Homo sapiens: one gene and its partner. The protein of the gene in region 2 purifies or fractionates together with the protein of the main gene of each other region. This does not show direct contact. Each region holds a gene or a part of one and is shown on either strand. Other genes may lie near its edges.

Region 1 (3,500 bases), on a different chromosome or scaffold from region 2:
GGGCCTGGACTTACTCTCTTCTCCTTCTGTGTTCTCCCCAAGTGATCTCATCTGCTCCCGTGGCTTCAGCATTCCAGCTACTTTTGTATTTCTGTCTCCAGCCAAGGCCTCCCTCCTCTGAGTATCAGACTTGCACACACAGTTGCCTCTTCTACATTTCCTCTTGAATGTCTCAGAGACATTTCAAATTCAGCATGTCCAGAGCAGAATTCATCATCTTTTCAGGCAAACCCGCTTCTGCTCCTTTATTCCCAATATTAAGTGGCTTAAATCAGAAACCTTAGCATCATCCTGTACTCCTCTTTCTTCTTTACTCCCACCTCACCCTACATCCATTTATTTACCAAGACCTGTCATGTCTGCCTCCTGAATAACTTTCAAATCTGCCTCTTGCCTCTACTCCCACTGTCCCATGCCATCAGTTATGGCTGAGATTGCAGTAGCATCCTAGCTGGTCTCCTCTTCTATCCCCAACCCCACAGAGCTATTCTTCACATCACAGCTGGTATAAAGTTTTAACTCAAAAGTGTTCTCCTTACTCTCTTGCTTAAAACCATTTAATGGTTTCTCATTACTCACAAAGGGAAGTTCACACTCTTAGCATTGCCCTAAAAGCTCTTTATGATCTGGTCCCTGACTACCTTTCTAGTATTATTTCACATCATTCTCTGCAGGGTTCACTATGTCCCCACCACTCAGGATTTCTTAAAATCCTTCTAATATACCACCAGGGCATTGCACTCTGCTTTAGGGTTTTGACATAAGCTGATTTCACCACCTGGAATGCACTTTCTGTTCCCTTTAGGTCTTAGCTTAAATGTCACTTCCTCCTCTAGGTTTTTCCTGTTCAGCTTAAGTCCAACTGTTAAGAAGTTACTCTAACACTTGACATTTCAGTAAGCTCAGAACATTTTAAAATAATAGTTCAACGTCTGTATTCCTCACTTTATCAAAAATTCTGAGGGCACAGCAGTCTAGCACAGGGTCTGGCATATACTGGGTACCCAGTATGTCCTCATTAGGGGTAAGTAAGAGAGTGAATGGAGAAGCTAAAACACAGAGAAGTAGACATTGTTGTCCCCATTCTTGACTCCACCTAGTTGGTAGTCCTAGTTTGGCAGTCTTCGAAGTTGTTCCGGCCAGGTACAGTGGCTCACGCCTGTAATCCCAGCACTTTGGGAGGCCAAGGCGGCAGATCACCTGAGTTCAGGAATTCGAGAACAGCCTGGCCAACATGGTGAAACCCTGTCTCTACTAAAAACACAAAAATTAGCTGGGTGTGGTGGTGGACGCCTGTAATCCCAGCTACTCAGGAAGCTGAGGCAGGAGAATCTCTTGAACCCAGGAGGCCAGGTTGCAATGAGCCGATATCTCGCCATTACACTGTAGCTTGGGCGACGAGCAAAACTCCATCTCAAAAAAAAAAAACAAAAAAAGTTTTTGCCTCCCTCCTTTATAAGCCACAGACTTTCCCTCTACTCCATTGTTATGTTTCTACATTGCTCTAATTAGAAACTTGTGGATGAACCTTCTGGTTATGAGATTATATAATGAAAAATGCTATCTTAATCTTTTAACAGTCAAAAAAAGTAGTCACAAGGCAGGATTCAAACATAAAGACCCTGGTAAGTATCTCTAAATATGTGTGGACAAAATAGAGATACATTTACTCTCCCCAGGAGCAAACTTGTTGTTGTTGTTGTTGTTGTTGGGGGCAGGAGGTATGTTTTTAGTTTTTGCTTTTTTTGCTTGAAACATCTCTCAGAAAGGAAGTTTTAATCACTCAAGCCTTTTGACAAATACGTTCAAATGAGTTACTTTTTAAAAGCTCCTCTGAACTTCGTGCCTAGGAAACGAGCTGCCTGCAAATCAGTGAATGGCTCTCATAAGTACAAAGGGAATTCCAAAGATGTGAAACCTCCAGATCTCTGGATCCATCATGAGAGACTGGAGCTGAAACCCATTGATAAGTCTCCAGACCCAAACCCCATCATGACTGATACTCCAATTCCTCGCAACTCTCAAGATATCACACCAGTTGACAACTCCATGGACAGCAATATCCATCAAAGGCGAAATTCATACAGAGGTACCATTTTAAGTGCAGGTTTTTTCTCAAATGTTAGGAAACTATTTTCATTTAAATCTTTTTTTTTTTCCCTGAGTTTGCCTTCATTTGGCAATTCCTATATGAGATCAGATTTAGAGAAATGTGTATGATAAGATTTGGGAACATATGATGAAGAATACCTAGCTTCTTATGGGAGAGAGATTCTGTAGCCATACGAGACAATCTTGCAGATCTTTTAGGTCTCTCATCAGGCTTCAGCAGCGTGATATTCAAGGATTTGAGGCTAGCTAGCCCATGTCTGTGCATTTCATTCTGTGTCTTCAGCTGGCTTCCAGCTTGCATTGTGGTATTCAGAACATTCTTGGTCTGGAGGCTCTTATAGACACCCTGTGAAGTATGGTGGGCAGCATTGTGACATCCACATTGATTCAGCAGGAACTCTTGTAATGCTCTAATGATCATTTTCCTCTTTATTTCACTTCTTACAGAAATGTCTTGTCCCCATTATGCTGTTTGTGAATTCTGAATCCCCTACTAGAAATGTTTCACTGTTGAGGCTGCTCAGTGGCATAGGGCACATGCTGGTAACTAACCTCCACGTTTAACATCTAGGGCATGAGTCAGAGGACAGCATGTCTACACTGGCTGGAAGGCGAGGAATGAGACCAAAAATGATGATGCCCTTTGACTCCCAGCCACCCCAGCGTAAGTAGAAGCATCTCTTTTCCTCAGTGCTACCAATCTGTTCAGTCATGTAGGGGAACAACTATGAATGATCTTTTTGACTTCACTTGATTCTAACACAAAGATAATCTACCAAAGCTTTGACACCTTGAAGGAGGAAGTACCAAACACTTGCCATATTTTGCAACAAACATTATTCTTGAGGCTAGCGTCGTTATGTTTATGGTAAATAAGCTGAAAAGCCAATGTCTCCAGATTCCCAGGAATAGGGGAGTAACTAGTCTCCCTAAAAGTGCATCATATCTCTATGGGAGAGATGGGAAAGCTTCCCTCCTCCAGACTAGAGCTAAGGATGGTCTGATGTTACAAGTTTTCATTACGCTGCCTGACACCAGTGCTGATGAGCACCTGTGAAATTTATTTTTTTAATTAATAGATTTGAAGGCCAAGCAAGATGGCCCACACCTATAATCCTAGAGTTTTGGGAGACCAAAGTGGGAGGATTGCTGGAGGCCAGGAGTTCTAGACCAGCCTGGGCAATGTAGTGGGACCCCATCTCTACCAAAAAAAATAAAATTAAAAATTAGCCAGGTATGGTGGTACATGTCTATAATCCCAGCTACTCAGGTGGCTGAGGCATGAGAATCACTTGAACCTGGGAAGCAGAGGTTGCAGTGAGCCAAAATCGTGCTGTTGCACTCCAGCCTGGGTGACAGAGTGAGACTCTGTCTCAAAAAAAATAAAA
Region 2 (3,500 bases):
GAGGGGTAAGGCCACAGGACAGAGCTAGGAGGCAGGGCCCGGGAGGGAGCTGGGCTTCCCGGGCAGCCCTTAAGTGGTGCCCCTCCCCATCCATCAGCCCAGCCCTCACCTGGTATTTGGCCAGCAGCTTGCTCCTCCAATGGGCATGGGGGAGGTCATGGAGGGAGAGGCGCAGGTTGTGGTAACTGTCCTTGAACATTAGCGGTTTCGGCTCCTCCACCAAGTATCCGCCCAGAGTCCGCTCCAGCTCCAGCACCTCCTGTGGGCCAGGGGCATGGGGAAGGGGAACCCATCACACCTGGCCAATGGGCCTCTTCTGTGGCACTGTGCGGGGCAGGGGGCAGGGGCCCATCTGAGTGCATGGCTGGGCATTTGCAAGAGCTCACAGAGGGCTTATGGTGTGAGAAGATGAATAGATGACGGATGGATAGACAGACAGTGGGAAAGATGACTAGATGAATGAATCTATAGATGACCGTATGGCTAGAGGGACTAATAAATGGACAGATGGATGGATAAACGGATTGATGGCTAGAAAGACAGACAGATGAATATACAGATGGATATACAAGGATGGGTATATGAATAGAAAGATGGAAGAAAAGATAAATGAATGGATAGACGAGCAATGACTGGGTAAACAGATGGGCTGCTGACTGAATGGGTATATGGTCAGATGAACAGAAAGACAGATGGATGGATGAACAGATGGACAGATGGATGGATGGAGGGTTGAATAAACAAAGAATGCCATCAGGCCCAAACCTGGTAACTTCTCTCTTGATTTCTATACCACTCTCTGGCCAAAGCTGGCCATTAGCCAACGCCCCAGGACCAAGAGATCCAGCTGCAGGAGCACTTCCCAGGCACCTTGCACCCATCACAGGGCCACTGGCATCTCAAGCCAGGGTCCTCCCAGCAGGGGACACTCCTTCTCCCATGGGCCTTTCACCTATGTTGTCTGCAGTGTGGGCTTTGGGACAAGTCCCATGAGCCTGGGAGATGAAGGAGCTGGACGGGGCCAGGGAGCAGGAACAGAAAGTGCATGGAGCCATGGGAAAGGACCATGAGGCGCTGAGGAGGGCAGATGGGAGGAGGGAGGGGAAGGGGCTCACACACGGCCAAGTGTCTGTATGCTTCCAGGGTTACATCAGGATGAGCCTGAGCTCCTGAGAATGGGAGGAGAACTTGGGGGAATGCACAAGGGCTCTGAGGCTGGCAGGGGACAGTGGTGCTAACACGGGGCTCCATACCTGCCATCATCAGGCTCTAGGTACTAAAAGACCCTTCCCTCCCCTTCCCTCCCTCCTGTCCCAACCACCCCTCATCTGCATGACCCTTCCTTCACTTGGGGCACCGCTCTCCATCCTTCTGCATATGCTAGGAGCCTGGCTGTCAGCCTTAACTTCCCTCTCCCACTGCCCATCCCATCAGTCACCGGTTCTGTCCATTTGACTGAGCACACGCAGCATCCAGCCCCGCCTCTCCTGGCTGCTGTCACTCCCTGTGGCCCAGGGTCCAACCCCAGCTTCCCAACAGGCCTCTCCACCTCTCATCTACCCACCCAAGTATAGCCACAGGGGCTTTCTAAAGAGCACCTGTGAACAGGTGTCTACCAGGTCCATTCCCCTTCCTGCCGGATGGATTCCAAATTCCTTGGCAAGGGGCCCTGAGGCTTCTGGGAAGCTGAGCCCTGCCCATCTCGCCCGCCCTCACATTCACACATTCCCTATGCCTTTTAGTTGGTCATGCTGAAACGCTTATGAAACGCAGTCATTTCTGTCGGTCTGGAATGCCCTTCACTCCTTTCTGCTGAAACTCCTACATGTCAGCCTTCTCAGAGTCCCTCCCTACCAGCCCAAGCCCCTCCCAGTCTGATGCTCCCTCAGTCCTGGGGCAGACCCCATCAGAGCCTTCAGGGATCCCTGGTCTGCCTCCCACCTCTAACCTGGATCTTGGTGAGGCAGGCCCTGTGCCCAAGGCTGTTTCAGTGTGTGAGGGTCGCAAGCGGGACCTAATAATGCTGGTGGCGGGGAGGGGTTCCTGGGAGGACCCATGAGCCTGGGGTGGGGGATTCTGGCAGGGATCATGCAGCTGGCCGGCCAGGGCTGTGTGGGCACCTGCAGCTGGCCCTACCTTCAGTGCTACAGGCGTGTCCTCCAGGCAGTAGACCCGGAGGCTGTACTCCAGGGAGGTGCAGAGGGCGGGGGCGAAGACGGCCAGCTGGAGCCGCTTGACTGCTGAGCGGGAATAGGACTCGCCCGTGAACACGTAGGTGCCCAGCTGGTCCAGCAGGATGTGACAGGCCCTGGGCTCCAGCTGGCAGTAGCAGGGTGTGTTCAGGGTCTCCTCATCCAGGGTCACCACCTCCTGTAGGGGACAGCAAGGGTGGGGTAGTGGTCACAGTTATTCAGGCTGGGCCAGAGGAAAAGGGCTTTCTTTTGCCTCCCTGGGCAGGTTGGGAGAGCTGGGCCAGCCTTCACCGTGGCTCCTCACCTCCCAGTGGCCCTGGTGGGCCTGGGTCTTGAGCTGAAAGATCCAGTCACGGGCACTGACTTCGGCACAGTGGGGCATGGTGAGGATGACGGGGCGGCACAGCAGGAGGCCTGTGGGTCCACAGGTCACCGAGGGGCTCAATACTGTCTGGGTCCCTTCTGAAAGCGGGCTGGAGGAGGACACAGGGTAGGAGAGAGGCAGTGAAGAGCTCGGCAAAGGTGCAGGCTCCTGCTGGGCTCCCAAGTCTGCCCAGGGCCCGGGAGGTGGAGGGCAGCTCTTTGCCACTCAGGGCTCTGCATTCCCAGAGGTCATGGGGGCAAAGGAGGCAAAGAAAATGGCATGAACCTTGAGGTTGTTTCCAGATTTTTGCTATTCCACTGCAACATTATCATAGCTCAAAATTCCTGGCTTATATTTTCCAAGGTTGTGTAATCTTGGAAGGTTTTCAATAGGTCACGCTAAAGTGCCCTCCAGGGAGCTGGTTCCAATCTATACTCCCGGCCACGTGCCACAGAAGGCCATGTTCCCACCCCCTTGCCAGCAAGAGGGTATTATCATTTGGGAAAAGGTCCTTGCAAATTCCTTAATAATAATAATTTAAAAATCCCAGTATACCTTGTGGTGGTTTTCATTAGTTTTCTCTGCAAATTAGACTAAACATTTTCTCATAACCTACTGGCCAGTGTGTTTGTGTGAGACAGTGTGTGTGAATCACGTGTTCATATCCTTTGCCCATTTTCACAGTGAGATGTTTACTTTTTCTTATTGATCTACAAAATCTCTTTACATAGTAAGGATATTCAGCCCTTTGTCACACTTGTAGCCAGCTTGTCAACCGCCTTTGAGTTTTACAATTTACGGTGTTGGTTCTGCAAGTTTTCAATATGGACACAGTAAGATTAATACTTTCCTTGGAGGACTGTTTGGTCTTGGCATCAGGCTTAGAAGGGGAGCCACGTGTGGGCAGGCAGCAAGGGATGGGAGGAAGAAAAAGGAGCAGCGGC

What was found. The genes of interacting proteins can lie anywhere in the genome.
Region 1: the proteins of UNC5B (region 2) and NEO1 purify together in Homo sapiens (co-immunoprecipitation; one study listed by IntAct). This does not show direct contact.

The regions. Positions count from the first base shown.
Region 1 is NC_000015.10:73,286,463-73,289,962, forward strand, and holds part of NEO1 (neogenin isoform 1 precursor), read left to right. Parts: intron 1-1,850; coding exon 1,851-2,089; intron 2,090-2,683; coding exon 2,684-2,776; intron 2,777-3,500. UniProt on the Homo sapiens protein: Multi-functional cell surface receptor regulating cell adhesion in many diverse developmental processes, including neural tube and mammary gland formation, myogenesis and angiogenesis.
Region 2 is NC_000010.11:71,292,570-71,296,069, reverse strand, and holds part of UNC5B (netrin receptor UNC5B isoform 1 precursor), read right to left. Parts: intron 2,666-3,500; coding exon 2,497-2,665; intron 2,371-2,496; coding exon 2,137-2,370; intron 260-2,136; coding exon 110-259; intron 1-109. UniProt on the Homo sapiens protein: Receptor for netrin required for axon guidance. Mediates axon repulsion of neuronal growth cones in the developing nervous system upon ligand binding.